Homo sapiens: one gene and its partners. The main gene of each other region encodes a partner of the protein of the gene in region 3 in a complex. Each region holds a gene or a part of one and is shown on either strand. Other genes may lie near its edges.

The links.
Region 1: LSM2 (region 3) and SNRNP200 share a complex: the UniProt entries of both Homo sapiens proteins name them as parts of the U4/U6-U5 tri-snRNP complex.
Region 2: LSM2 (region 3) and LSM5 share a complex: the UniProt entries of both Homo sapiens proteins name them as parts of the precatalytic spliceosome.
Region 4: LSM2 (region 3) and PRPF31 share a complex: the UniProt entries of both Homo sapiens proteins name them as parts of the U4/U6-U5 tri-snRNP complex.

The regions. Positions count from the first base shown.
Region 1 is NC_000002.12:96,287,725-96,295,546, forward strand, and holds part of SNRNP200 (U5 small nuclear ribonucleoprotein 200 kDa helicase), read right to left. Parts: coding exon 7,764-7,822; intron 5,786-7,763; coding exon 5,592-5,785; intron 5,372-5,591; coding exon 5,248-5,371; intron 4,177-5,247; coding exon 4,027-4,176; intron 3,779-4,026; coding exon 3,668-3,778; intron 3,092-3,667; coding exon 2,960-3,091; intron 2,791-2,959; coding exon 2,602-2,790; intron 2,273-2,601; coding exon 2,075-2,272; intron 1,656-2,074; coding exon 1,503-1,655; intron 1,394-1,502; coding exon 1,313-1,393; intron 1,023-1,312; coding exon 939-1,022; intron 246-938; coding exon 139-245; intron 1-138. UniProt on the Homo sapiens protein: Catalyzes the ATP-dependent unwinding of U4/U6 RNA duplices, an essential step in the assembly of a catalytically active spliceosome. Plays a role in pre-mRNA splicing as a core component of precatalytic, catalytic and postcatalytic spliceosomal complexes.
Region 2 is NC_000007.14:32,486,588-32,494,388, forward strand, and holds the start of LSM5 (U6 snRNA-associated Sm-like protein LSm5), read right to left. Parts: upstream 3,794-7,801; 5' UTR 3,779-3,793; coding exon 3,733-3,778; exon of another isoform or gene 3,438-3,732; intron 2,758-3,437; coding exon 2,662-2,757; intron 2,066-2,661; coding exon 2,038-2,065; intron 1,171-2,037; coding exon 1,098-1,170; intron 707-1,097; coding exon 674-706; 3' UTR 1-673. UniProt on the Homo sapiens protein: Plays a role in pre-mRNA splicing as component of the U4/U6-U5 tri-snRNP complex that is involved in spliceosome assembly, and as component of the precatalytic spliceosome (spliceosome B complex).
Region 3 is NC_000006.12:31,796,738-31,804,559, forward strand, and holds the end of LSM2 (U6 snRNA-associated Sm-like protein LSm2), read right to left. Parts: intron 1,771-7,822; coding exon 1,740-1,770; intron 1,313-1,739; coding exon 1,253-1,312; intron 1,146-1,252; coding exon 1,020-1,145; 3' UTR 659-1,019; downstream 1-658. UniProt on the Homo sapiens protein: Plays a role in pre-mRNA splicing as component of the U4/U6-U5 tri-snRNP complex that is involved in spliceosome assembly, and as component of the precatalytic spliceosome (spliceosome B complex).
Region 4 is NC_000019.10:54,125,435-54,132,716, reverse strand, and holds the end of PRPF31 (U4/U6 small nuclear ribonucleoprotein Prp31), read right to left. Parts: intron 6,218-7,282; coding exon of another isoform or gene 6,190-6,217; coding exon 6,100-6,189; intron 4,645-6,099; coding exon 4,517-4,644; intron 4,413-4,516; coding exon 4,340-4,412; intron 3,661-4,339; coding exon 3,532-3,660; intron 3,446-3,531; coding exon 3,347-3,445; intron 1,411-3,346; coding exon 1,285-1,410; 3' UTR 1,004-1,284; downstream 1-1,003. UniProt on the Homo sapiens protein: Involved in pre-mRNA splicing as component of the spliceosome. Required for the assembly of the U4/U5/U6 tri-snRNP complex, one of the building blocks of the spliceosome.

The DNA of each region.
Region 1 (7,822 bases), on a different chromosome or scaffold from region 3:
CTCAATGTGCACCAAGGTTCAGGTCATACTTCCGATGTCAGGTCTGGAGATCAGATGCACCCTGAGGCTTTCCCATCAGACCCTTGGGTTGGGGACCCCCACTCATGGTGACCAGCATCCAGCTCACTGGGTCCTTACATGCGTTTGTCGATCATCTTGCAGAGGTTCAGGGTCTTGTCTGTAAGCTGTGCCCAACCTCGGTTCAGGACAATTTCAAATATCGCTCGCATCAACCGGCCAGCCGACTAAGCAAAGAAGCAGCATTCCCACTGTTAAGTCTCGACTATCCCCAGGCCTCATGAGCCACTCTACACACGGTTTCATTACCTCCAGCTCTGACACAACCACCCACCCTAACTCAAAGGCAAAGTCCCCTCTGTCTTTACGCCTTTCTCCGTTCCATATAGTAGATGCTTGCCGGATGGGGAACAATTAGAAGAGTGCTGCGGCTCAAGGTCACTGCACAACATTTTAACCTAACATTCACTGCATGATTTTAAAGCTTTTGAGTCATTTAGCATTTAGAGTTCTAGGAAGAGTTGAGGGTACCAGTGACCTGTTCTTAGAGGTAAAGATGAAGAGCAGCTAATAAAACCCTGTGCCATTTTTGGATTTATTTATGAGCTGTGCAGCAACAGTGGGAAATCACTTTGCTGCTGGGAAGCAGACACTGCGTGCTGTGGCTCTTCCTGTCTCTCTGAGGGCCCGTGGAGCCTCGAAGCATTCCCTCTTAAGGTCTTACCTTTCCCACGTGCTCAAGATGTATACTACAGAGTGGCTGTACCACACATGCACCAACCAACTACCCGGCAAGAGCAGAACTAAGCACTCCTCCCATCTCACTAGGGTCGGGCCTCCTTTCCCCAGGATGCACACAGCACACAGGGATTGAACTGTTCAGGCCCCTTCTCACAGCTGCCATACAACTCCGCTCTCACCTGTGTGACATACACCATGTCAGCCATCAGTGCAAAGCCCTCCAATTTCAGCTGTGAGATGAAGGCTTGCAGAAGAACGTTGATCTGTAAAGAAGCAAAATCAGCCAGCAGGAGACCAATCACTGAACAGTCCAAGAAAGGGAATTACATTTCTGCTCTGAGCATCCAGGCCAGGTGAGATTTGCTACAGGTCTTGATTTACAAATACTAAATAATTGTTATTTCATATAAAAAGAACATGCGAGAAGGCTGCAAAAACTAGGAGAACTGAGCAGGAAACCACACATGAACCCAAATTCAAGGTTCATCTTTTAGAAGATTATGAAAACCACTTAATCCTCATCCTTATCAAAGCAAAGAGGAGAGGAGCTCACCTTAGCACTGGGTTCCTCAATGCTCTCCTTTACAGGGATAGGCACCCTCTCCAGCAACTTCTGCAGCTCCAGCTTCTCCTCCTGCCACAAGGAGGAAAAGGTCAAGGGAAAGCCTTGTGGCCGAGGAGGGACACCATTCAGTGACTTGGTGAGCACCAACTCCCCGCCCCATCATGCTGCATAGGCTCACCTCTCTCACTGTGATGTTCTTGAACTCAGAGGACAATGAGAAGACCCTGAAAAGCTCAATCTCACTCAGGGTGGGCTTCAGCAGCTGGTTGTAAGTCTGCACTGTATCATTGGTGATGTAGTAGTGGCTGGCTATACGGCCCAGTTCTGTCACCTGGAGAGAAGGTAGACTCAATCCAGTGCTGACTATTAATGAGCTCCAACCTCTAACTGTGGACCATAAGTTACTGTCCTATAGGTTTTTTGTACTTTTTTTTTGGTAAAGTATATGACCCAATGTCATTATTGTCCTAATAGGACAACTGGATGAAGTCACAGCAGTACAAGTGCCAGGCCCAGGCACATGAAGAAAAACAGCAGAATAAGCTGACCCATAGTGAAATGATGTCTGCACGGACAAGACAGCTGAATTATCCACCTCAAGTTATGGGAAAAGCTACCCATTTTTCTGCTGTTCTAAGCAACAGGTGATTAGATAGGCAGTACTCACATCAAGAGAGCAATCTGAAAAATTTTTTCCTGGGCCAACAACTTTTGCTGAGACCTTTGCCTCAAAACCCTCACCCCACGCACCTGGAAGTTGCCCGTCTTCTTGTCGTACTTGACCAGATTGTTCTTGTCCAGCATCAGGGCAGCTGTATGAACCAGATCTAGTCGGCGCTGGTCCAGCAGGGGATCTCCCTTGAGGTCATCATGAGAGATGCCATAGAGGGTTGGGGATCGCAGCATTCGGATATAGAGGTAGGCATAGCCCAGCCAGTTCACCGCATCCTACAAGACACAGCTCATGGTTCTTAGCATGGAGAAACTCTTGATGTCCAAATGACAGGCTCCCATGAATTGCTTAGAAATTAATTCCCAACTACAAGGATGCATATTACATCGTATTCTGAATGTTTTTAGCATTTCATTATTAAAAAGATCTAAGCGTCTTCTAAGATCTTGGTAACAAGGGGAACTATCTGCCAGACCCAAGATGTGGGTGCAGGGATGGAAGGCCTCGGACGCTGCTGGCCCGCAGCACAATAGGGACCGACCCACTCCTGGTGCCTTGGTGTCTGCGGGGAAAGCATGAAGCACAACAAGCAGTCCTCCCCTACCTTGGCATTCTGGACATTTCCTAGCACGATTTCTGCATTGAGCATGTCAGGAAGCTTTGAAACCATCTGGCTTTCAATAGGAAGTTGTTGATTGAGGAGGGACAGGTAGTACTGTAGCTCCCCATGAGATGTGATGAGTATGCCTTCACCCTTGGTGTCATACTGGGGTCTTCCGGCACGTCCCAGCATCTAGATCAGAGACAGCGAACCAAGAATGCTATGTCAAGAGAATGTCTGAATTTTGATGCAGGTATCTACATTACAGAACTAGACCTCTGATCTGCTAGCTTTCCAGCATCCCTGCATTTCAGGCAAGGATACTGATCCCTGCTGAGAATAAACTCAAAAGGCTCTGTACCTGCAGAATGTCCAGTGCTCCCAGTTCTGTCCAACGCCCCTTCTCTGGACTGTACACCTGGGTGCCTTTGATGATGACTGTATGTGCAGGGAGATTCACACCCCAAGCTAGAGTTGCTGTGGAAACTAAAACCTACAGAGGCAAAACAAGGTAATGAGGAGAACAGATGCCATCACCAGGGGTTAATATCCCTGGCTTCTCTAGGCAGTTGGCCTCAGAGCTTCTCTCAGGACTAGCCGGTAGGGCGCGTGGGGTCCCAGTACTTGTCAATGTGACACCAGAATAAAGAGGAAAGGTTTCCTTGGGTTCCTCATCTATTCAGTAATGAACATTTCAAGGTTCCAGAGGCACAAGTGCAGACTTGTATTAAACAACCTTAAAGTTACTAGAAAAGGTAAAACAGAGCCTATCCGGAAAGAGGGAACGACAAGGGCACGCGTGCCCCCATGAGACACTGTTTGGAGCTATCTGAAGTCACCAAAGTGCTTGCTTCACTATGCTTCTCAGACTATCCTAAACTCAAGCAAGGTGGGAAGAGTTGGGAGAGTAGCATAAGGTTCTATTTATTGTGTCCACCACAACCCTCTGACCTGGGCTAGCTGGGCCAGAAGCAATAAAGTACCAGGAGCAAACATGGCACAAACTTGACATTGCCCATCTTCTGAAGTATGTCCCACCTGCTCCTCCAAACGCTTTGCACCCCCTCACCTGAATATGTTTATCAGCAAAAAGATCCTCCACGAGTGTTCGGTCAACCCTGGTCATGCCTGCGTGATGAATAGCAAAGCCATAAGGCAGAAGATCCTTCAGCTCTAGGTTCTGTGGAACAAAGAACCGGGGATGAGGCGAGCCTTCCTGTAGGACTCATCCAAGGACTAAGGAAATCTCCTCCCATGAGACCCTGCCCCTTAACTATTATGTGGAATAGTAATAATCACATCCAGACAATCAACCTTAACCCATGGGAAACAACAATACCACAGTACAGTCCTAGAGGAGCTGTCTGGGGCCTGAGATGGACACAGCTGCCAGGTAGGAATGAGAGAACCCAGCTGGCCCCTCCTCACCTTGCACTGCTCAGCTTCTGTTCGCAGGACTTCTGTGGAGGCTGAGCCCTCCCTCAGAAACAGACCCAGAGTGTCCTTTTCTAGGCACATGTCCCGGATGGCCCTGGCTGTCTTTCCAGTCTCCTTCCGGGAGTGGACAAACACCAGCACCTAAGGAGAAGCCACAGTTTGCTACAGTCACGAGATACTCACAGCCCCAGGGCACCTGCAGCAGGAAGCAGAAGTTGCACCATCACCACCAGAAGCCAAGGTCCTGGAGAGGGGCAAGGGCAGGAATGTGTGCAGGCTCAGAGGAAGCCTAAACACGGCTGGAAAGACTTTTAAGGGAATGCACCCACCAAGTTCACAGTCCTGGAGCTGAGAAATTAAACCAACTTCAACATCCTATCTTGAACAGCAACTTTAAATAGACTACAACTACAAATTCGGGCCTCTCAACTCAGAATTTATGTTCAAGCACCTAACAAGAGTCAAAGCTGCATGAAAATGTGTCTGCAAAATAACAACTAAAACATTACACTACTTATAAAAGGATTTAGGAAATAAGTCTGAGACTAGTACACTGTTGTAGGGAATGAAGTCTTCCTAGTATTTAGTGCCAAGAAAAGATCTGTCTCTTCATATAAATTCATATGCTTCTTTTCATCAGACAAAAAGAAATACAAAACCAGTCACTTTTCCTTATTTTTTGTTAGTTAACATTGCTCAACTCGACTTTCAATTTAAAAATTCTATCACACTGTCTAGTAAAATGCCCTCTAGTTTTTCATTTTCCTCTTTTTATTGTCTTGCATTTTTAGTGTAAGTGACCCCAAATCTTTTATGGAGGGACCCTGGATAATGCGAATGCACAAAACAATTATCTGGGACTGGGGATTGCTTGCTGGGGGGATTTTTAATTCTCCAACTCTCTAATAGTTGTAGGGCTCTTCATGTTATCTATTTCATCTGGGCTGAGTTTTGCTAGTTAACTGGTAGTTGTTGGAGAACTGGTCCATTTCTTCTGAATTTTTAAAGTTATGAGCATAAAATTACTCATAGTATTCCCTTATTATCCTTCCAGTGGCTATAGGTTCTGTAGTAATATCCCATTTCATAGCTGATATTGGTGATTTATGTTGTGTCTTCTCTCTTTTAATTTCTGTCAATCTTCCCCAATTATTGGTGAATCAAACATTCGAAAGAATGGGGTTCAAGAGTAACCATAAACCACGGGCAAACCTGATTTTTTCCAGCATGTTCCATGATTTTTTCATAGACGATTTCATTCATGATCTGGAAACGCTTGATAGCTTTTTTCTCTGTGATACCCACATATGTCTGTTCCAGAGGCACTGGACGGAAGCTAGAAGTTCAACAGTTAGACAAATGAGGCTTTGGCAGAAAATACTGTGGGAATAAACAGTCTTTTTCACTGCCCCAAGAGCAATATTCCTCCTTTATGATTCACACCACATCAAAACCCAAAGGCCCTTCTAAAACCCAACCCAGTAGCACTCCTTGGAAAAGAGGAAAGAGAGCAGGATGGTCACCTTGGCAGAACTTTGCCCAGTCTTTCCTGATACCTGTTGTCAAAGTAAAAGAGACCCTTGGCAGGGTCAACACGTAGAAAGGTGGCTACATCTTCATAGTTGGGTAGGGTGGCACTGAGACCAATGAGTCGGACATCCTCTTGGGTCATCTCAATGTTTCGGATGGCCCTGGCCACTAAAGCTTCTAAGACAGGACCTCTGTCATCGTGGAGAAGATGAATCTCATCCTACGGAATTGGAGGACAGAAATTACCTCTAGCACTAGAGATACATAGTCCCTTTTCCTGGAATTGTCCCATATTGTAGGCATATAACCTAATATGCCTAAGAAAAAAGACAAGGGATCCCAAGCCACAGATGCCCAAAGGATGGAGACAATATTTCCCATGAAATACTCCAGAAAGTAACAGACTCTGACCATGAGTTGCTTTGGTACAGTTCAGTAACATACTTTGTATAAAGAAATTCTGAAACTCAGATAAATGAGTTTAAACTTTACTTAAAGGTAAACTTCTTTATGAAAAAGGATATAAATATGATCTGATCAGAAGCTTCACCTCTGGCAGTTATAGTTCCCAAGAACAAAAGCTATCACACATCAAATGATGAGTTTGAATAGTCTAAAGCAGTGCATCTCAAATTTTATTAAGTATCCCAAAGCCAGGGGATGTTGTTAAAAAGGAGATTGTATTCAGCAGGTGTGGGGTGAGGCCACAAATCCTGCATTTCTAACAAGCTCCTATTCCATGCTGCTGCTGCTATGACCCCAACCATGGATCAGGCTTCAAGTAGCAAAGCTCTAAAGCAGGGACCAGAAATGTTTTTTTTAAAAAGTCAGATGCTCCATCTCAAAAAAAAAAAAAAAAAAAAGCCGGGGGCAGTGGCTCACGCCTGTAATCCCAGCACTTTGGGAGGCTGAGGTAGGTGCATCACCCAAGGCCAGGAGTTCGAGACCAGCCTGGCCATCAGATTGGTGAAACCCCATTTCTACTAAAAATACAAAAAATTAGCTGGGCATGGTGGCGGGCAACTGTAATCCCAGCTACTCGGGAGACTGAGGCAGGAGAACTGCTTGAACCCGGGAGGCGGAGGCTGTAGTGAGCTGAGATTGCATCATCGCACTCCAGCCTGGGCAACAAGAGTGAAACTCCGTCTAAAAAAAAAAAGCCAGACAGTCAGTATTTCAGGCTTTGGCCCACGCAGCCCCTATTGCAAATACTCAGCTCTGCCATTGCAGCCAAAAGCAGCTGTAAACAATACATAAACAAATGGGTGTAACTATGTTCCAACAGAACAAAGCCAGTACCCACAGACTGCCAACCCCTGCTCCAGAACACTGAAAACCAACACGTGAAGTCTCCTTTCTTGCTTTTCCCAGACAACTTAAACTATACTCAGACTTAGTCACTAATCTCTGGAAGTTTCTGTGTATATGGAATACAATATCCTGCTTCCTCACTCATTCCCTCAGAGAATGGATTCTTTTACTTATAAAACCCTAAATGATGTTGGATATGATGGTTTTTTGTCTATCTGTTTACATTTGTTTCAAAATATTTCAGACATAGCTTCTTGGCCTTTTGGCTTAAGATCAAGTGTAGTAAAATATTTCAGACATAAAAAAATATATAAAGAATAACATGGCAGGCTAGGCGCAGTGGCTCACGCTTGTAATCCCAGAACTTTGGGAGGCTGAGGTGGGTAGATCACGAGGTCAGGAGTTCGAGACCAGCCTGGCCAACACAGTGAAACCCAGTCTCTACTAAAAATATAAAAATTAGCTGGGCATGGTGGCAGGCGCCTGTAATTCCAGCTACAGGGGAGGCTGAGGCAGGAGAATTGCTTGAACTCGGGAGGCAGAGGCTGCAGTGAGCCAAGATCGTGCCACTGTACTCAGCCTGGGCGACAGAGCTAGACTCCATCTCAAACAAACAAACAAACAAATAAATAAATAAATAAGATGGCAAACACAAGCTGACAATAGCTGTCATTATAATGTTTTGGATGGCCCTGGCCACCAAAGCTTCTAAGACAGGACCTCTGTCATCGTGGAGAAGATGGATCTCATCCTACGGAATTGGAGGACTAGTCATTACAAAGGCTAGTGCCTACAGAAAAGGCAGCAAAGAAACATTTCGCATGAAAACCCAGCAAACCCGCCCTGACACAACTGGACTCTATATTCTACGACTGCTCCCAACTCACCAGAATGATGAGCCGCACCAGCTGGGTGTAGGTGCGCTCACCACCCTTGCGGGTGATGA
Region 2 (7,801 bases), on a different chromosome or scaffold from region 3:
TAAAGCTCTGTCTCCACTCATTTCCTGGCAATTCAGTAATAACTACATTAAGGTAATAACCTTCTGAATCAATTTTATAAGCAAATAGATAAAATTTCTATCTTTAGGGTAATTCCAATAGATAATTCCTGCATTTCTACAATGTGCATATATTACCTGTACATTGTTTGTTTTCAATAGGAGTTCATGGAATTTGAAATCAGAAGAAAAATCCTCATTACAAAACAACAGCATTTTAATTGAATTTTCTAAGTGATCATTTCCGGTTGTTTAAATGCACCTGTTCAAATCAAAGTTCATCATTTTGTTTGGAACAACTTTTGTTTGAGAATCAAATGGTCACGTAAATGACAAAACAAATAAGCATATAATGACAGAAAAGTAAGTGGCAAAATAACTACAAACTTTGTTCCACTGGCTACTGCAGTAGAATAAACAAAATGACAGTTAACCAAAAACACCTTTATTTTCATCTGCAAAGAAGAAGCTCTTTTCTTCTTTTTCCAGGATAATCATGATTAACTTACAAAAATGGGTACACATCTTCAAAGCACTTCCCTTTAACGGGAAACTTAGCTTTATGGGATTTAAACATTAGAAAGTGGGAAAAAAAATTCCATTTTCTTGTCATTATAAGCCAAAACAAAATCTAGTGTAAGTCAAGGAAACTCATTCACACTTCAGGTCCTTCTCCTCCAGGAACCAGCTGCATAAAGAGGAAAAAGAGTTTATTAATAACACTACCACCATGTCATCTAAAAACCCCTTGCTCTTCATTAAGCCACCTTTGCCTGTCCCCTGCACTCCACGTTCCCATTTTCTCCAGATTGTCAGTATCTATTTACAATTCCCAACGTCATCAATTAATACTTACTATCTCAACAGCGATTAAAAGTTCCAAGCAAACTAACCTTTAGACCCAATGCCTCTTCAATAGCTGAGCTTTAGGACCCTGACCACAGAGAACCCCTTTCCCATCTTATGCACCACTGGGCCATGATCATTTAGTCAAGCAAGCAACATTAAGGTTAGTTCTGTAATCACTGCTCCCCAAAAATGGGCTCCCATCAAAATAAAACAGTTTCAATGTGTCTTACCATTGTTATATTATTTCCATTTAGCAAAATCTGATCTAATTTAGTAATCCTTCTTCCTTCTGGTGTGATTTCACTAAATGAATAGATAAAATACAGTCAGGACAAACAGTGAAAATCAAAGCCAACATTTTGGAAATACTTACCCTCCCTAAAAAGGTTATCCTTGTATACAAATTACACTGAGGTTGAGCAATTATATCCACAATTTTCAGATACAAAGGTTATCCACTAGGTAATGTAACCTTCATTAAAAGCAGCAGAATGAACTCACTGACACTAAGACCCACGTCTATCAGACAGAGCTTCATAAAAAGAAGTGAAAGCTTGCCCAGGAAATCAAATATGAAATGAAATGTTTTTTGGGTTTTTTTTTTTTTAAGAGACAGGGTCTTGCTCTGTTGCCCAGGCTGAGTACAGTGGTACAATCATAGTTCACTGCAGCCTAGAACTCCTGGGCTCAAGGGATCCTCACCCTCCAGAGCAGCTAGGACTACAGCTGCCCCCTACTATAACCAGCTAATTTTTAAATTTTTTATAGAGACAGGGGTCTCCCTTTGTTGCCCAGGCTGGTCTCAAACTCCCAGGCTTAATCCTCCTCCTTTGGCCTTCCAAAGTGCTAGGATTACAGGAATGAGCCACCATGTCCAGCCTAAATGCTCTTACTATCAGTTCCTTTATTTGACCTGAACCCTAAAATTCCTGGCTCTTTTTGTTATCTTCTACCTTAAAACTGTGTCTCCACTAATATTCTAGGCGTTTACTAATAATTACATTAAGGTAATAACACTCTGATCCAATTTTACAAGCAAACAGATAAAACGTCTATCTTTAACGTTATTCCACCAAGAGGTAATGTTTTCTCATAAATAATTTTACTCAAAAGTAGTAAAACTGTCTTTAATTAAGAAGAGATTCCCCCCAATTCTTTAACACTACTCACAACTCAGTGACATCTTCCAGTACCATATCTGAAATTTGGTGTTAAGAAAATAAATACAGAATTTACTCTAGCTTCTGCCTTTGTTCAGCTTTTGTTTTTTGTTTTTGTTTTTGTTTTGAGACAAAGTCTCGCTCTGTCATCCAGGCTTAAGTGCAGTGGTACAATCACACCTCACTGCAGCCTCCACCTTTTAGGCTTAAAGGATCCTCCTGCCTTAGCCCCGGAGATTAGCTGGACCCACAGGTGTACATCACCATGCCCAGCTAATTTTTGTAATTTTTGTGGAGACAGGGTTTCATCATCTTGCCCAGGCTGGTCTCAAACTCCTGGGCTCAAGCGATCCACCCACCTCGCCCTCCCAAAGCGCTGGGATTATAGGCGTGAGCCACTGGGCTCGCCTGTTCAGTTTTAATTACAATGTTTAATACAATGGCTCAAATTCAAAATGCTTGTTGTTGATAGGAACTTTACCGTCTTTCAATACATACCTCTTAAAACATTATCATAAGTTCCCTGAGAATGAACTGATTTTTATTATAATAATCACAAATATACTGATTGTCTATAGTTCTTATGTTATTACTTAAGAAAAACCTATACCACCACCACCTTTTAAAAGGATACTGACAAAGTCATCAAATCCTAGAAGAGTACCAACAATTTCCTTATCACTCTTCATCACGATGTGAATTCTTGATCCTATACATTTGTCCACAAGCTCTGAGGAGGGAAAAAATATTATTTTACCATTCATTATTTCAACAAATATTTGAGTGCCTACTGGCACTCTTACTTGCATATAGTGAAAGAAAAACCAGGAAAAACATTCATTCAATAACTTTAGGTCTTATAATACAAATCTCAGTTCAAGCACAGCATCTGGCACATAATGAGCCTTCCAAAAGAGTCTGTGGCATGAAGGAATGAAAACTTTTCAATCACGGCCACGACCACTAGTTCAATCACTCTTCACCAACTACAAAAATATAAGAGGAGATAGGTATAATTATATTCACCGGAAACTCTCCGGTCACTGCTTCCCTTTCCCAACTCTGTCTATCCTCTGTGCTCTGACGGTAGCTTGAACATCTCTTTAGCTAGCCTAGCATTATGTGGCATGATGTCTACTTGTCCAGTGTTCTCTCCTCCACTGGCTTGTGTGCTATTTGAAGGCAATGGCTATGGTTTATCATTGAAAAATGCCCAGGCACGGTATCTAGTGTATAGATACTCAGTTACTACTTATTGAATGAATAAATAACAAACAGAGCTGGTTTCCAGATTCCTCATTTAAGGCTCATTCCGGACCAGGGTGTTAGTGTCACTAACCAACCACATACATAACATGGTCTATCTAATCTGGGGATCGTAAACGCCAGGCTGAGAAGTAGGCCTACTACCTATAACACTGCAGAGGCGGGCTCACAACAAAGTAGGCCGACGACGCGTTCACTAAATGTGGACCTTTTCCAGTGAAGGTCTGGTTTGAGAAGTCAAAGTCCTTGCCTGGAGGAGCCCGACCACGTTAAAGAGCAGGTGCGGCCTGCTGTCGCGAAGACTTGGAGCTCAGAGTCGAACCGCATTTGGTCTTATACATTTCCCCACACTCGGCCAGGGCCTGCCTCGGAACAGCCCCTCGGCCCCCAATCCTGAATGTCAGCTCCCTGTTCCTGCTCCCCAAAGGACGGCGATTACCTAAGGGCAGCAGCTGCGACGGGTTGGTAGTAGCGTTAGCCGCCATGGCTACGCCGGAAGTGGCCTGCCTTCATTGATGGTGGGACGACTTTGAAAAGCGCGCTTCCGCTTTTTCCGCAGCCCAAACAGGCTCGACCAATCTGAGGCCGAGCGCACGATCTAGTCAGCTGCGTGGGTCGCGTTCACTGGCTTTTTTCCCCGGCAAGTGAGATCCGGTGAAATATTTCCTGCCCACTGGACATTTTACCATCTCGGCAGATACCCATAATGCCCTTGAAGTTTTGGAGAGACGTTGAAGATATTTTGCCTTGTGAATAAATTGTTCCTGTAACGTTTGAGTCTTCTTCCCCCGTAAAGTTGCATTTCCTCTCAAGCCAGAATCTTCAAACCAGTATAAATCAATTCGTATTTCCTGCCATCAATTAACTGTTACAATTTTCGTTACAACTACTCATTAAGGAATCTATTGTTTCTTTTTAAAGTCCAGTGGATTGAAAATCTGCAACTAGCATTTTTTAAAATTTTTCTTTAGTGAGGATTTAAGATATGTTTTTTAAACTTTTTACTACTTTAATTCATCGTTCTTATCTTTTTATGTCTGGTAGTCTTATTTATTATAGGCTTTTAAATTCAGTTTCTTCAACAATTCTTGTCTCACAGGCAACCACCAGATGTCACTCTAAATTATTCCAGAAGTGTAAAATCATGCTTTCCACTTCTGTGTTGAAAACAGCAAAGTATCGGCCCTAGTCTGTTTTATATTTGTATCCTAGGAACTTAAACCTGAACAGTCTAGGTCAGGCGCAGTGGTAACGACTGTAATCCCAGCACTTTGGAAGGCCGAGGCGGGCGGATCACCTGAGGTCAGGAGTTCGAGACCAGCCTGGCCAACATGGGTGAAACCCCGTCTCTACTAAAAATACAAAAATTAGCTGGGCGTGGTGGCGTGCGCCTGTAGTCCCAGCTACTCGGGAGGCAGAGGCAGGAGAACTGCTTGAACCCGAGAGGCAGCGGTTGCAGTGAGCCTAGATCATGCAACTGCACTCCAGCCTGAACAACAAGAGCGAAACTCCATCTCAAAAAAAAAAAAAAAAAAAGCTAAACAATAAACATGAGCGGCCACAAAGAACGTCATTCATTCATACAACAAATGGTCATTAAGCACCCATCATTCCTTCATAGACTGAGTTCCTCAAGGCTGAGAATTATGGGAAGCAGTAGTTTACGTGATTAAATTTCTTCATTTTGAATTAAATGACTTTGGTTCAAATTCCATGGTCAGTTATTTGACAATGGGCAAGTTATTTTAACTTTTTAAGTCTCAATATACCCATTGGAAAAAATGGGGACAACAGTATCTACTCATAAGATTAATGTGAAGATTAATTGAGATAATCTATGAAAAGTGGTCAGCATAGGACCTGGCACATAGCCCTTTTAAACATGAGCTGTTATTACTTATCCTTGTTTTCTAATACATGATGTCTGGCTCAGAGTGAAGCTACATAAAGCTAGCATTGCTAGCTGGTTTTGCATTCATCTTATTTTTATAACCAGACATAAGCCACTTTAAGGAAGCAATTTCTTATTTTATACACTGTGCACACTACATTTTCAGGCACACTGTAGGGCGCCTAATGAATATTCTTTAAATTGATTCTCACTATTTCATTCACACCCATCAACATTCTCCTTACTCTTCATAAGATTTTAAATACGAAGTAATGCCAGATTTGTTTGTGACGCTTCTTTCTTTCTCTTTCTCTTTTTTTCTTTTTGTCCAATCCTCATTTGGTTGAAAACCACCTCTTTTCCTGGTTTTCCTTTTCTATTCCTATTTTATTTTCCCCATACCATACTGACAGTATGGGAGAATTCAAAACATTGTTGTTATTTGATAGAGTTTTTAAAAATTAGAAAAATAGGCTGGGCACAGTGGCTCACGCCTATAATCCCAACACTTTGGGGGCCGAGGTGGGCGGATCACGAGGTCAAGACATGAAGACCATCCTGGCCAACATGGTGAAACCCCATCTCTACTAAGAATACAAAAATTAGCTAGGTGTGGTGGCACACGCCTGTAGTCCCAGGTACTCAGGAGGCTGAGGCAGGAGAATCGCTTGAACCTGGGAGGCAGAGGTTGCAGTGAGCCAATCGTGCCACTGCACTCCAGCCTGGCGACGGAGTGAGACTCCATCTCAAAACAACAACAACAAAAAAAAAACAGAATAAACATTAGCAATTTTGAATGCCACTAATAAAGAATAAAGAAAATCTCTTTAGAATCTGAAAAAAGGAACGATATATAGTTCACTTACATAGTAGAGTTAATGGGGATTTCAGGGAGTGGTATTTTTATTATTTTCTCTCCTGAGGCAAGACACAAAAAGGAAGAACAGGCCAATTCCAAATGGAGAGTTGTTATGAACTTGAAAATATGTCATAGCTCTATGTCTCAAGGATTTTTCTCCCTTTAAGTCTTAAGTAGAAGACGTAAAATAGAATTTATAATTTATCATAAAATACATGTAACTACCAAAGGCTCTTCCATGTATTATATGTTCAGAAAGGCATTTCTAATTTTCTCCCTCGAGTTAAATTAGAAATTTTATTATTTTCCCAATAGACATTTGTCCTTGTGGACAATATCTTGTTAATGAATTTATTCTACATTAATACAACTCATTTAAAACATAATGTAAGATGTGCATGGTGGCAGGCAACTGTAGCCCCAGCTACTTAGGAGGCTGAGGCAGGAGGATCCCTTGAGCCCAAGAGTTTGAGGCCAGCCTGGGCAACATAGCAACACCCCATCATATTTTATTTATTAATTTAGAGACAAGACCTCACTCTGTTACCCAGGCAGGAGTACAGTGGTGTGCTCGCGGACTCAAGCAATCCTCCCATCTCAGCCTCCTGAGAAGCCAGTACCACAGGCGCGTGCTACCAAGTCTGGCTATTTATTTTTTATTATTTTTTGTAGAGATGAGGTCTCATTACATTGCTCAGGTTGGTCTCGAACTCTTGGACTCAAGTGATCTACCCACCCTGGCCTCCCAAAGTGCTGAGATTACAGGTGTGAGCCGCCATGCCCCACCTATATTCTAAATTCTTAAGTGGTCCAGTCTGTGTATTTAGAGATGAAAAAAATCCTGGAAATTCCCTTGTTCACTTTCTGTCTCAATTTTCCCAGTAACTAACTTTTTCTTTCTCTCTCTCTCCCTTTCTTTATTTTTTTGAGATGGAGTCTCATTCTGTCATCTGGGCTGGAGAGCAGTGCAGTGACACCATCTCAGATCACTGCAACCTCCACCTCCCGGGTTAGGGTGATTCTCTTGCCTCAGCCTCCCTAGTAGCTGGGATTACACACACCACCATGCCTGGCTAATTTTTGCATTTTTAGCAGAGATGGGGTTTCACCATGTTGCCCAGGCTGGTCTCCAACTTTTGGCCTCAAGTGATCTGCCCGCATCGGCCTCCCAAAGTGCTGGGATTACCAGCATGAGCCACCACGCCTGACCCTCTTTTTATATATATCTTTTTTTTTTTTAGAGGAAATCTCGCTCTTGTCCCCCAGGCTGAAGTGCGATGGTGCAATCTTGGCTCACTGCAACCTCCACCTCCCGGATTCAAGCAATTCTCCTGTCTCAGCCGTCCGAGTAGCTGGGATTACAGGTCTAATTTTTGTATTTTGTACTAGAGAGGGGGTTTTACCATGTTGGCCAGGCTGGTCTAGAACTCCTGACCTCAGGTGATCTGCCTGCCTTGGCCTCCCAAAGTGCTGGGATTACAGGCGTGAGCCACCACACCCGGCCCTTATATACATCTTTAAAAGGTGTTCAATTAGACAGTAATTTTAGCCATGCCAATTGTGGAAAATATCAAGACAGGTTATATCAAGAAAATATTAATAGTTAACACATCACACAGCTGACAGCTCAAAACAGTTAATATATTAAGAAAACAGTTAATATATTCTGCATACAGGGAGCAATATAGTTTTACACAGTTTTCTTAGCCAATGCCAATAATTTTGTAATACAGAAAAGAAATGTATAGCAGCATCTTG
Region 3 (7,822 bases):
TTAGCCGGGCATGGTGGTGGGCATCTGTAATCCCAGCTACTCAGGAGCTGTGGCAGGAGAATCGCTTGAACCGGGAGGCGGAGGTTGCAGTGAGCCAGACCAAGCCAGTGCACTCCACCCTGGGCAACAGAGTGAGACTCCCGTCTCAAAAACAAAAAGGAGGGTCACACTAGATGGTCTCTAAGGGTCCCTTAAGGCTGAGAAGTCTCATCTGTATCATGAACTCATATTTGCTGAATGAGTGAATGAAGTTTAGTAATTCCCAGTCACAACTTTTCTCTAAAATATAAATTACATCACTTGTATTTATCTTCTATACATATTCAGAAAACATGAACTGATTTGGTTGGATTGGTGAAGTCTGGTAGCATGAAATGTATCTTATGACACTATCACATTAATGGAAGGACAGCAAGCACTCCAGTTGCAGGTATGGTATAAGCAAAAGGCCACAGGGAGAACATACAGGTAGGGACATGTTGGGGAAACATGGTGTAGAGCAACTGTATTATATGCTTTATACCAAGGAGAGTAGTGGGAAGCTGAGTTGGATTCTTGGCTGGGTTAACGCAGAGTAACAGGGGCTTGGATGAATTCGACATCCTTTTCCATGTCCCAGCCCCCTGCCCAACACATAGTAACAGAACCAAAACACAAATTTGCATCATAAATTTTATTCCCGATGCGGGACAGATTCCTTCCATCCCCAAATGAATCACATGCTGCCCTGGAAAGACCTAGGAAACTCTCCTACCATCTCCAGAGAAGTAGTGAGAAAGGCAGGTGCTGGGGACTGGGAAGGCTTTGAAGTTTCCCAGCCTACTTATCCTCCCCTTCTCAAGAGAGGATAGCTGTTCCCTATTACTCCTCTCATCCACTCATCCCTTAAAAAAAACCCACAAAACCATCATTAGTAAAAAAACAAAACCCCTTCAAGTATTGGGGGTTAGGGGTTCTGGGCTGGGACTTGGGGTTATGGGTCACCAATGAAAGAGGGAGGGGAAGAGGAGGAGGAGCCATCACTGTTTCTGCTGCAGGGCTTCCTTCCTTGCCGCATCCTGTAGCAACTGTGTGTCGACCTCATCTGCTGGCAGCTGCACGTATCGGACCACTGAGCCCCGAATGAAGCAGTTCTTCACTGATAACTAGACAAAGATGGACAAATATGAAAACACCCTTAAAAATGTCCTCTAACCACCCAGGGGCCTCCTGCTTTAGAGGTGTTTCCTCTTCTCCACAGACCCCAACTCACCATGTGAGGGTATTTCTCAGGGTCTGTGACACTGATGTCAGTTAGTTTGATGTTGAGATACTAGGAAAGGAAGATGAACACCATTATTATTATTATTTTTTTTTTTTTGAGACAAGAGTTTTGCTCTTGTTGCCCAGGCTGGAGTGCAATGGTGCCATCTCGGCTCACTGCAATCTCCGCCTCCTGGGTTCAAATGATTTTCCTGCCTCAGCCTCTCGACTAGCTGGGATTACAGGTGCCCACCACCACGCCCAGCTAATTTTTTGTATTTTTAGTAGAGACGGGGTTTCACCATGTTTGTCAGGCTTGTCTTGAACTCCTGACCTCAGGCCTCGGCCTCTCAAAGTGCTGGGATTACAGGCGTGAGCCACCGTGCCTGGCCGACGAACACCATTATTAACCCTAGAGACATGATGTAAGAACCCAACCCTTAAGTCTCCCCTCTCCTTCTCCAGGAACCAATTCTGGGGCCCGTGCTATATCTCACCTGATCCACAGAATGGAGGGTTCCACAGATGCTGTCAAGGGCAGAGGGAGAGAAGAATCAAATTAGTTTATAACAAAGTCAACATAGAGGTGACTTCAGAGCTGGGATGAGAACATGACTGGGAGAAGTCAAGGACTTGAGGATGTCAGAAAAGGTAGAACCAAAAGGGGGCATTCCTAAGCCCTGGAGTAGGAAAGACAACTAACAGAGTAGTTTATTTTCAACCCCACATCTCCTCTCCCTAAACCAATCCATTCTTTTTTTTTTTTTTTTTTTTTTTGAGATGGAGTCTCACTGTCAGCCAGGCTGAAGTGCAGTGGTGTGATCTTGGCTCACTGCAACCTCTGCCTCCCAGGTTCAAGCGATTCTCCTGCCTCAGTCTCCTGAGTAGCTAGGACTTCAGGCGCATGCCATCATGCCCGGCTAATTTTTTATTTTTAGTAGAGATGGGGTTTCACCATGTTGGCCAGGCTGTTCCTTAACTCCTGATCTCAGGCGATCTGCCCACTTCAGCTCCCCAAAGTGCTGGGATTACAGGTGTGAACCACTGTCCCCGGCCAAACCAACCTATTCTTAACAGCTACCATTAAACAACTGGTAAAGGCTAGACCTGTATTCTATATAGTATTTGTAATCTTTACAGCCATCTTTCAAAGTAGTTATTACCTTCCAGGGGCTCAGAGAGGTTGTTTTAAACTTTATGAGTTTAGAACAAATGGGAACTTCAGTCCAAGTCTGTGTGACTCCCAAAACCATCAGCTATTTTTTTTTTATTTTTGCGACAGGGTCTCACTCTATGGCCAAGGCTGGAGTGAAATGGCGTGATCATGGCTCACTGTGGCCACTTGAGTAGCTGTGATTACAGGCTTGAGCCACCATGCCCAGCTGATTTTTTTTTGAGATGGAGTCTCGCTCTGTCGGCCAGTCTGGAGTGCAGTGGCACAATCTCGGCTCACTGAAAGCTCCATCTCCCAGGTTCACGCCATTCTCCTGCCTCAGCCTCCCGAGTAGCTGGGACTACAGATGCCGGCCACCACTCCTGGCTAATTTTTTGTATTTTTAGTAGAGACGGGGTTTCACCGTGTTAGCCAGGATGGTCTCGATCTCCTGACCTCATGATCTGCCCACCTCAGCCTCCCAAAGTGCTGGGATTACAGGCATGAGCCACCATTCCCGACTTTTTTTTTTTTTTTTTGTAGAGAAAGGGTCTCACTGTGAATGTCACCCAGGCTAGCTATTTTCAAACATTTATTGCTTTGGAACCAGAGCCCATATGTGGATAAAGGTAGGTAGCATTACTCTTGATGATGCAGGCATGAGTGATGTCCTCTCCATTCCCCAATCCTCGAGCCCCTTGAAATGCTATTTGAGGAATGCTATCAAAACACCAGTGCTCTTTGAGAGAATGGTGCAAAAATTTAAAAAAACAGCCTTTGGCTGGGAATGGTTGTTCACGCCTATAATCCAAGCATTCTGGGAGGCTGAGGCAGGAGGATCGCCTGAAGCCAGCTGGAGAACAGCCCAGACAACATAGCAAGACCTCATCTCTATTTTAAAGTTATAAAATAAAATAACTGTGGCCGGGCACGGTGGCTCACGCCTATAATTCCAGCACTTAGGGAGGACGAGGCGGGCGAATCACGAGGTCAGGAGTTCGACACCAGCCTGGCCAACATCGTGAAACCCCATCTCTACTAAAAATACAAAAAATTAGCTGGGCATAGTGGCAGACGCCTGTAATCCCAGCTACTCGGGAGGCTGAAGCAGGAGAATCACTTGAACCCGGGAGGTGGAGGTTGTAGTGAGGCGAGATCGAGCCACTGCACTCCAGCCTGGGTGACAGAGTGAGACTCCATCTCAAGAAAAATAAATAAATAAAAATAATCGTAATAAATAGCAGTTTTAAAAACGTCCTTATCTTGCCAAAAATAAAGTTGGCAGTTCTCTGCCCCAATTTTTGTAAAATTCTGAAAGTCTTTAAAACCCAGCGTCTAGGCCATGTGCGGTGGCTCATGCCTATAATCCCAGAACTTTAGGAGGCCAAGGTGGGCGGATCACTTGAGGCCAGGACTTCAAGACCAGCCTGGCCAACACGGCGAATCCCCATCTCTACTAAAAATACAAAAATTGGCCGGGCGTGGTGGCTCACGCCTATAATCTCAGCACTTTGGGAGGCCGAGGCGGGTGGATCACGAGGTCAGGAGATCGAGACCATCCTGGCTAACACGGTGAAACCCCGTCTCTACTAAAAATACAAAAAATTAGCCGGGCATGGTGGCGGGCACCTGTAGTCCCAGCTACTTGGGAGGCTGAGGTAGAAAAATGGCGTGAACTGGGAGGCAGAGCTTGCAGTGAGCGGAGATCACACCACTACACTCCAGCCTGGGTGACAAAGCAAGACTCCGTCTCAAAAAAAAAAAAATACAAAAATTAGCTGGGCATTGTGGTGTGCACCTGTAATCCCAGCTACTCAGGAGGTGAGGCACGAGAATCACTTGAACCCAGGAGGAAAAAAAAAATTTAAAAATAAAATATAAAAATACAAAAATTAGCTGTGTGTGGTGCATGCCTGTAGTCCCAGGTATACAGGAGGCTGAGGCACGAGAATCATTTGAACACAGGAGGTAGAGGTTGCAGTGAGCCAAGATCATGCCACTGCATTCCAGCCTCGGTGACAGAGTAAGGATCTGTCTCAAAAAAAAAAAAAAAAAAAAAAGACCCACTTAAATATGCTCTAGGAAATTAATTTAAATGAACTAGTACTAGGCAATCATTATTTTTTTTGAGACAGAGGGTGAGTCTCTGCCTAATAACAAAAACAAAAACAAACACCCAGTATCTGAAACCCACTGCCTCAGTAATGTTCTCACCATATTGCTAGCTGCTGAAAAACATTTGACAGCACCCCACCATCTCCAGCAGTGAAATAACATTTGGGAATTGTACAAAGTGGTGTCATTTTATTAAGTCCCTTAAGGAGGGGGAGATACATAGCACAAAAGTGGTCTGACAACAAACATAAGAGAAAGAACTTTTGGCCAGGCGTGGTGGCTCACACCTGTGATCCCAGCACTTTGGGAGGCTGAGGCAGGAGGATCACTTGAGGTCAGGAGTTTGAGGCCAGCCTGGCCAACATGGTGAAACCCCATCCCTACTAAAAATACAAAAAATTAGCTGGGAGTGGTGGCATGCACCGGTAATCCCAGCTATTCGGGAGGCTGAGGTGGAAGAATCACTTGAACCCAGGAGGCAGAGGTTGCAGTGAGCCAAGATCGCGCCACCGCACTCCAGCCAGGGCAACAGAGTGAGACCCTGTCTCAAGGAAAAAAAAGGAGAAAGATCTTCTTTCTCATCCCAACAGAAAAGTCACTTTAAAGCCACACACATATTGGCTCACACCTGTAGTCACTGCACTTTGAGAGGCTGAGGTGGGAGGATCACTTGAGTCCAGGAGTTCAAGACCAGCCTGGGCAACACGGCCGAGACTCTGTCTCTATGAAAAATTTTAAAAATAATATAAAAAGGCCGGGTGCAGTGGCTCACGTCTGTAATCCCAGCACTTTGGGAGGCCGAGGCAGGTGGATCACGAGGTCAGGAGTTCAAGACCAGCCTGACGAAGATGGTGAAACCCGATGTCTACTAAAAATACAAAAATTAGCCAGGTATGGTGGCAGGCACTTGTAATCCCAGCTACTTGGGAGACTGAGGCAGGAGAATCACTTGAACCCAGGCAGCAGAGGTTGCAGTGACCCGAGATCATGCCACTGCACTCCAACCTGGGTGACAGAGTGAGACCCCATCTCAAACAAAAATAAATAAATAAATAGAAAAAAAAGAAGGCTGGGCGCAGTGGCTCACACCTGTAATCACAGTACTTTGGGAGGCCGAGGTGGGCAGATCACAAGGTCAGGAGATTGAGACCATCCTGGCCAACGTGGTGAAACCCCTTCTCTACTAAAAATACAAAAATTAGCTGGGCGTGGTGGTGCATGCATATAATCCCAGCTACTCGGGAGGCTGAGGCAGGATAATCACTTGAACCAGGGAGTCGGAGGTTACAGCACCACTGCACTCCAGCCTGGCGTAGACTCGACCAGAGCGAGACTCGTCTCAATAAAAAAAAGAAAAAAGAAAAAGAAAAGAAATGTTACTACGGCCGGGTGCAGTGGCTCACACTTGTAATCCCAGTACTTTGGGAGGCTGGGGTGGGCAGATCACGAGGTCAGGAGTTGGGAGACCAGCCTGGCCAACATGGTGAAACCCTGTCTCTACTGAAGATACAAAAAATGAGCCAGGCGTTGTGGCGCATGCCTGTAATCCCAGCTACCAGGGAGGCTGAGGCAGGAGAATCACTTGAACCCGGGAGGCAGAGGTTGCGGTGAGCCGAGATCACGCCATTGCACTCCAGCCTGGGCGACAGGGCAAGACTCTGTCTCAAAAACAAAATAAAATAAAAAAAATAAAGGTACTTTAGGGCCTAGGGTTATAACACAACAGTTAGGCTTCCCATGTAAAAGGCCCAGGAAGGAGAAAAGAGGAGAATCAAAAACAAGTCATCACACCAAATTGCCTAAGACTGATAGTGATTACCGTACTTGTCTTGCTCTGTGGCCCCAATCTATACACATCAATATCACTTGCATTGCCAGTGCTACAAATGGAAACCTGTGTTCTAAAACGCAAAGGCCCTTAAGTCCCTCTCCTCACCATTCCCTGCCCTGTCAACGTGTAACCCATGAAAAAATTATCTCACATAGAAATGTGGAAGACAGCCAGACACAGTGGCACACACCTGTAATTCCAGCACTTTGGGAGGCCAAGGTGGCAGGACTGCTTGAGCCCAAGAGTTTCAGACTAGCCTCGGCAACACAGTGAGACTCTGCCTCTCCAAATAATTAAAAAATTAGCTGGGCATGGTGGCATATAGCCCCAGCTATTCAGGAGGCTGAGTGAGCTATGGTGGTGCCACTGCACTACAGCCTGGACAACAGAGTGAGACCCCCATCTCAAAAAAATAAATGTGGAAGACGCTTTTGGGAAGAGAATACAATTGATCCCATCTTTCTAAAGGATAATGAGGTAACAGGTATCAATATTTTAAATGTACTTTTTTTTTTTTTTTGAGATGGAGTCTCAGTCTGTCGCCCAGGCTGGAGTGCAGTGGCCTGATCTCAGCTCACTACAACGTCCGCCTCCCGGGTTCATGTGATTCTCCAGCCTCAGGCTCCTGAGCAGCTAGGATTACAGGCGCACAACACAACATCTGGCTAATTTTTGTATTTTTAGTAGAGATGGAGTTTCACCATGTTGGCCAAGCTAGTCTCAAACTCGTGACCTCAGGCATCCACCCGCCTCGACTTCCCAAAGTGCTGGGATTACAGGTATGAGCCACCGCATCTGGCCTAAATGTACATATTATTTAAAGGACTGTACAGATAAGTACAGGGCCAGGTGTGCTGGCTCATGCGCGTAACCCCAGCACTTTGGGAAGCTGAAGCAAGAGGACTGCTTGAACTCAAAGAATTTGAAACCAGCCTGAGCAACAAAGTGAGGCACTGTCTCTAATTTTTAAATAAATAAATATTATTTTAAGAAAGAAAGTAGGACTAGGCGCAGTGGCTCACGCCTGTAATCCCAACACTTTGAGAGGCTGAGGCAGGTGGATCACAAGGTCGAGAGTTCAAGACCAGCCTGGCCTAGATGGTGAAACTCCATCTCTACTAAAAATACAAAATTTAGCCGGGCATGGTGGTGGGCACTTGTAATCACAGCTACTAGGGAGGCTGAGGCAGAGAATTGCTTGAACCCAGGAGGCAGAGGCTGCAGTGAGCCGAGATTACGCCATTGCAGTCCAGCCTAGGTGACAGACTGAAACTCCATCTCAAAAAAAAAAAAAAAGAAAGAAAAAAAGCTGGACAGAATCATATTTCAGTTGTGTCACTTACTAGTTTTGTAGACTTGAACAAGTGGTATAGCTGATCTAAGCCTCAGTTTCCTCGTGTAAAACAGCAATAGTATATATTACTTAGCAGTGTTTGAGAAATCAATCAATAAATGTATTCAGAATAGTGGTTAGTCAATAC
Region 4 (7,282 bases), on a different chromosome or scaffold from region 3:
CAGAGTGAGATTCTGTCTCAAAAAAAAAAATAATAATAATAATAAGAGGCCAGACACAGCGGCTCAAGCCTGTAATCTCAACACTTAGGGAGGCTGAGGTGGAAAGCTCACTTGAGCACAGGAGTTCAAGCCCAGCCTGGGTAATAGAGCACGACCCTGTCTATAAACAATTTAAAAATGGGGCTGGGGTGGTGGCTCACACCTGTAATCCTGGCACTTTGGGAGGCTGAGGTGGGCATATCATGAGGTCAGGAGTTCGAGAACAGCCTGACCAACATGGCGAAACCCTGTCTCTACTAAAAACTATAAAAATTAGCGGGACATGGTGGCACATGCCTGTAATCCCAGCTACTCAGGAGGCTGAGGCAGGAGAATTGCTTGAACCCGGGAGGTAGAGGTTGCAGTGAGCCAAGATTGCACCACTGTACTCTAGCCTGGGCAACAGAGCGAGACTCCACCTCAGAAAAAAAAAAAAAATTTAAATTAACCAGGAGGCCAGCTGTGCTGGTTCATGCCTGTAATCCCAGCCCAGGAGTTTGAGGCTTTAGTGAGCTTCATCGCATCACTGTACTCCAACCTGGGCAACAGAGACCCCGTCTCTAAAAAACCCAATCATAACAGGACCTGGTTATAGGGCGCTGATGGCAAGTCCCATGCTAAGTGCTTTCTGTGCATTCTTTCCAGTCCTGGGCACCTGGGCGTAGGTGTGGAGGCTTGGAAAGGTGAGGAGGCTGGCCTGAGGTGGACAGCAATCCCGGTCGGCCTGCGCTGAGATCTGCGGCTGTTGGCAGCCACATCATTTGCTATCAAAGTGACTGCGGCTCTCCAGGGGGTTGGAGAGGGCTTTTTCCTTCTGGGATCCCATGACGAGAAAGTAACGGGGAAGGGAGTGGGCCTAGACACCGCTTGGACCCGAGGGCCAAGCTCTTTTCTCAAAGCTCCACAGCTCTGATTCTTCTAGTTGCCCCGGCTGTTTGAAAAATGATCACTCCCCAAGGACAGATCTTGACAATGTCCTTTTAATTGTACTCTTTTCAAAAAATCTCCTTTCTCAGTTAAAAAAGACAAGGCATGATGAAGACCTGCTCTAGCCCATACTGGGCGGTGATCTCGGTCCTGGGGGAGGCCAGGCCGGACTCTTCCAAGGCCTCCTCCCTGGGCAGTCCCAGCAATGGGGCCAGTGGCAGGGCAGGTTCTCCCTGCCAGAACCCGATCCTAGCCCTTCAGAAGGACTGGACCTCTGTGTCCCTTCAGTGGGAAGCCACCTTGGACACACGCAGTCATTCAGGTGGACATAAGGCCACTCTTCTCGCCCTTGACCTTGAGGAACTCAGCCATGCTGGAGAAATACTTCTGGTTGGCCTCAGCCACCTTCTTCTCTGCCGCCTGTGGGTTCACAATCTCCAGGCCCTGGGCAGGTGAGGGAGAGAGGATGATGGGTTAGGTGAGGAGAAGGCCCCAACTGTGACCCATCAGAGCCCCCCAGGCCCTTCCCCATGGCACTCAGGCCTTGGTGGGCATGAGACAGTTTGCCTGTCCCTGGAGTTGCCCTGTCTTGGGAGATTCTGACTCAGTGGGTCTAGAGGGAGAGGGTGGGGAGGAACCAGGGCGCCTGGATTTGTACGAAGTTCCTCAGGGGTGCTAAAAACAACCAATGCTTGAGGACAGCCAATCCTGCCCAGTTTCTGCATAAGGAAACTGAGTCCCTGGGGGACATGGCTGGCCCGAGGTCCTAGCACAAATCACACCAACACCACTGACGATCATAGTGGCAGCAATGGGAGCCAACACCTGGCTGGCACTTCCTAAATATTTTCAAGGCAACAGAGCGAGCCCCCGTCTCTAAAAATAATAACAGGACCCAGTCATTGGGCTCTAATGGTGAGCCCAGTGCCAAGTGCTTCCTGTGCGTTCTTTTCAGTCCTGAGCACCTCATGATGGAGGAGGGGAGGCTTGGAAAGGCACAGCCACTGGCCTCATCTTCTCAAAGAGGCCCTCCCTGGCTGCTCCGAAACGAGAGCCTCCCCTGTCCCACCTCCTACCTTCCACCTCCTCCCCTCCCTGGCATTTCTGCCTTCTTTTTTTTTTTTTTGAGACAGAGTCTGGCTCTGTCGCCCAGGCTGAAGTGCAGTGGCGCGATCTCGGCTCACTGCAAGCTCCGCCTCCCGGGTTCACGCCATTCTCCTGCCTCAGCCTCCCAAGTAGCTGGGACTACAGGCGCCCGCCACCACGCCCGGCTAAGTTTTTGTATTTTTAGTAGAGACGGGGTTTCACCGTGTTAGCCAGGATGGTCTCGATCTCCTGACCTCATGATCCACCTGCCTCGGCCTCCCAAAGTGCTGGGATTACAGGCGTGAGCCACCGCGCCCGGCCTGGCATTTCTGCCTTCTACTACACTGGGCATCTTACTGAGCTGTCTGCGCCCGGCCTGGCATTTCTGCCTTCTCCTACACTGGACATCTTACTGAGCTGTCTGCGCCCAGCCTGGCATTTCTGCCTTCTCCTACACTGGACATCTTACTGAGCTGTCTGCGCCCGGCCTGGCATTTCTGCCTTCTCCTACACTGGACATCTTACTGAGCTGTCTGCGCCCGGCCTGGCATTTCTGCCTTCTCCTACACTGGACATCTTACTGAGCTGTCTGCGCCCGGCCTGGCATTTCTGCCTTCTCCTACACTGGACATCTTACTGAGCTGTCTGCGCCCGGCCACCCACTGGCTCCAAGAAGGTAAGACTTGTCTCTCATTCGTTGCTTCATCCCCAGAGCCGGGAACACTGACAGAACTCAGCAGGTGCTGCGTAGACACCCGCTGACTGGGCAGATGAGCTCGCTGCTGTCTCGCCTCCGTGGTGCAGGCTCGCCCTGCTCTGTGGATGGTAAACCGAGGCTCCGACGATGCGGTGACTGCCATGCTCCACGCTGCTCACTGCTGACTGGCTGGGGCCTGGACCCACACTTGACATCCAAGCCCGCCTAGCCGGGAACTTTCTCGAGTGGGGTCCTGAGGTTACCTTAACCGTCCTGGCCGTTTTGAACTGGAGGGCCTGGAGGCTGAGCAGTGTTACCCGCTCACAGCCCGACAGAGGAACTGGGTGCCCTGAACACAGCTGTGGGCCTGGTTCTAAAGCAGTGCGTGCTCACGAGGACTGCTCAGCGCTGGGCTCTCGTCTCTGCTAACCTCTTCCTGTGTGCCAGGAGCTGTCTACGTCCTCTGCATACCTCGTCACCACACCCTCCACAACAGCCCCATGAGGAGACTCATCCTGGCCTTCTTCACAGGGGCAGAGGGCAAGGGGCCTTGCCAAGGTCTCAGGGCTGGGGACAGAGCCGGCCCAGGGGAGGTACCTGGAGTGGGGTGAAGGCCACGCTGGAGGCCGTGCCCGAGGAGCGGTCGCGGATGGTGGACTTCCCGCCATATACGACGCTCTGCTTCTGCAGGGTCCGCTGTGGGGAGGACAGGGAGGCTGCGATCTGGGCTCCCCCCACCTTGTGTCCCTCGGTCCCCAGCCCCACCTGGGTCTGGCCCATACCTGCAGCGTCTTGGAGATCCTGGCCTTGGTGGCCTCGTTTACCTGTGTCTGCCGCACACGCCCACTGCCCGACTTGCCCAGGTGGCCCAGGCTGAATCCCAGGTCCTCCTGGTAGGCGTCCTCCTCGATCTAGGGGGGAGAGGAGGCGCCCTGCAGTTCAGCGACCAGGCCCTGCCCTCCAGCCACCGAGGCACCCCCTCCACCAGCCCGAAGCCCAGCGGTCACCAGCCGGCCGGTCCCACGGGCACCTGCTCCGGTACCCACTCGGCCCGGCTGAGGCCTGGGGGCCCACACACGCGGGGGATGCTGGGGAGCCTGAGAGGGGCCCGGTCCCAGCACTGCTCTGTGAGCTCAGAGTTGGGAGGCCATTCCTTCCTTACTCGTGTGGGTCGGGGGATGTCAGGAACCAGAACAGGTTTAATAGGATGAGGTGGCCTCTGAGTTCGGTCCTGCAGGACCAAGGGGATGACGCTGGGATAACAGAGGAGACTGGCGGGGCCCAGGGACGGGGCGGCCGTGCAGCAGGGCACTAAGGAGCCTCTGGGCAGGGAGGAACCGGCCAAGGAGCCCGGGGCGATGGGAAGCCGCGGGGGCTCTAAGCAGCGGAGACACAGGCTCCAAGGGTCGCGAGGGTCGCTTTGGGGCTGAACGGATGGAAACGAGAATAGAGGCCGGGGGGGGGGAGGCTGGGGCAGCGCCCTAGACATGAGCCAGGGCCACAGGACGAGAGGAGGGGCGGTGGCAGGAGGCAGAGGGCGGTGGCGGCTGGCTGGCTGTGGGGTTGAGGAGGGCGCTCTGGGAGTCTGACCTCTCCGAAGCTCATACGGTTGGCCTGCTTCCGGATCTCCGTCAGCCCCAGCCGCTCCTTCATCTTGCGGTACCTGGGGACGGGTGGGTGGGCGGCGCCAGGGAGTCGGCTGGGAGGAGGACGCCGGCTTCTCCCCTCCATGACCCCCATGCCTACCGGACCCCCAGGGCCCCTCACCTGCGGCCGCCTCGCTTCTTCCGCTGTCCATCCAGGGGCGCAGGCAGCGGCTTCACCTGCTTCACAGGCGGCGGCTCCTGCCACTTGTCGAATTTGCGCTCGATCTCATCCTTCAGTTCGTAGCCCACCTGGGGAGGGCGAGGGGGAGGTCCTGCAGCTGCTCGCGTGGGCTGCCCACCCAGGCCTCCTCTGAGCGGGCCCCCCGAGTATCCACGTGCCTTAGTTAAATCAGCACCTAATGCTGCCTCACCGCCACCCCCTTTCTTTTTCTTCTTGGTGTTGACTTAGCACCGCTAGACGCAGGACAGAGTTCACCTGTTGACTGTCTCTTTGACCCGGCCCCAACAAGAATGTCCACGCCACGGGGCAGGGGTCCTGTCTGTGCTACTCACAGCTGCACCCCCACACCCAGACCAGGGGTGAGATGGGGAGAGGGAAAGGAGAAGGGGACACGGAACACCTGAACGCTGTGCCAGGCCGGGTGCTTGGCAAACGACAGTTCACAAGACAGAAAACGTCTCCTCTCCCGAGTACATCTACCAAGGAAGACAGAAGGTAACTGAATAATTACTTGAATAACATCCCCTGTTGCAGCGGGGACAGATCCTGGTGTGGAAGGCAAATTACGCCCCCACCAACACACACATGCCCAAAGAGGCCCATGTTCTAATTCCCAGAATCACAGGGCAAAAGGGACGTGAAGAGGTTAAGAAGGATTTTAAGGATTGTGAGCTGGGAAGACTATCCTGGACCATCTGAGTAGGCTCAGTATAGCCACAGGGGCCCTTAAAATAGAAGAGGGGAACAAAAACAGAGGCGGAGATATGAAGACAGAAGCAGAGTCAGAGAGAGGTCTGAGGGTGCTATGTGGCTGGCTCCGCAGACAGAGGGAGGGCCACGAGCTAAGGGGTGCCAGTGACCCCTAGAAGCTGGAAAAGACCAGGGAATGGATTATCCCTTGAATCCCCCAGAAGGAACGCTCCAGGATGACACCCTGACTTCAGCCCAGTGAAACTCATTTTGGACTTCTGACCTACAGGACCACAGATAATAAACCTGTACTGTTTTTTGTTTTTGTTTTTAGATGGAGTCTCGCTATGTCACCCAAGCTGGAGTGCAATGATGCAATCTCAGTTCACTGCAACCTCCGTCTCCCAGGTTCAAGCAATTCTCCTGCCTCAGCCTCCTGAGTAACTGGGATTACAGGTGCGTGCCACCACACCCGGCTAATTTTGGTAGAGATGGGGTTTCACCATGTTGGCCAGGCTGGTCTCAAACTCCTGACCTTGTGACCCGCCCACCCTGGCCTCCCAAAGTGCTGGGATTACAGGCGTGAGCTACTGCACCCGGCCACACCTGCACTGTTTTAAGCCAGTAGGTTCATGCTACCTTCCAACAGCAGACCTAGGAAACCCCACTGGGGAAGGGGGTGCCTGACCCCAGGGAGGGTGGGCAGAAGCACTGCCTCCGCCTTGGTAGGACAGTGCTCGCTGGGGTGGGCTCCCTGCTGAGGGTCTCCCTGCAGAGACACCCCAGGCCCAGAGGAAAAGACGCCCGGCCGCCCCTCACCTTTCCCTCCTCACCTTCCCTTCTGTGCTCTCGTGGAAACTGTCCACACGGGCTGCCAGTGTGCACTTGGCGGCCACCAGCCGGGCCGCTTTCCGCCGCAGATCCTGGAGCAACGGAAAACGGGGGTGGAATCTGTGTGAGACAGACAGACAGAGGTAACAGCAAAGCAACCGCGCGCGCTCCTCCTCTGGCTCTACCTGGGGTCCTGGAAGGGGGCTTTCCACCCTTGGGCTCTAGAGGTGTGTGCTCTCAGCTCCTACTTCACAGGAAGAGGGGATGAGGGCAGGGCACAGAGCCATGTCCCAGCTGATAAGTGGCCATCAGGTAAGGATGACAGTAAGGCACGCTGACAACGAGGACGGTGGTGACTGTGGAGACGCCGGGGGGAGTGCACTCGGCCTGGATGCCAGCCCCATGCTAAGCACGCCCCTCGGATCATCTCATCAAATATTCAAATATCGGGCTGGTGTGATCATTGCACCCCCTTTTCAGATGTGGAAACCAAGGCTTCAAGTCATGTGGCCAGGGAGACAGCCAGCAGGTGATGGAGCCAGGGTTCCAATCCAAACTGCAAACAGAGCCCAGCTGTCAGCCACAGTGAAGCGATGGCCAGCCCTGGCCTCCCTTACAGGCCTGTGGTGTCTACGGCCTGTGCCTGGACCGATGTGAGATGGCCAAATGAAGAGGCAGAGGCCTGGGTGACAAGACATCAGGCTCCCTGGGGCAGGTTTAACCCATATGCCCAGGGCTGTGAGGCGGTGGCGATGGCAGGGGTGCAGTGAGGCAGCTGGAGCCCCGAGCCCCAGGCCCACCCGTCCTGGGTTCTATCGCCCACTCTCTCTCCTCCCAGGATGGGGTGACCTGCCAGCCTCCCTGGGTGTGTTCCAGTAGCAGTGCCTGACCTAAAGGGTCGCAGAAAAGACCACAAAAAAAACCCCACACAGGGCTGGGGGGTGGGGCCAGGAAGTGCCTGCCCAGCCTTGGCCATCAGTGCTATTGTTCTCCCCATCCCTGGGGGAGGCCAGGCAGGGCACAGGGCCGTGAGCCTGAGGTAACTCGCCACAGTTGGACAGAGCAGGGTCTGGACCCAGGCCTGTCTGTCCCAGAACCTGTCTTGCTTGTTTTTTTTTTTTTTTGAGACAGAGTCTCACTCTGTCACCCAGGCTGGAGGGCAGTGGTATGATCTTAGCTCACTGC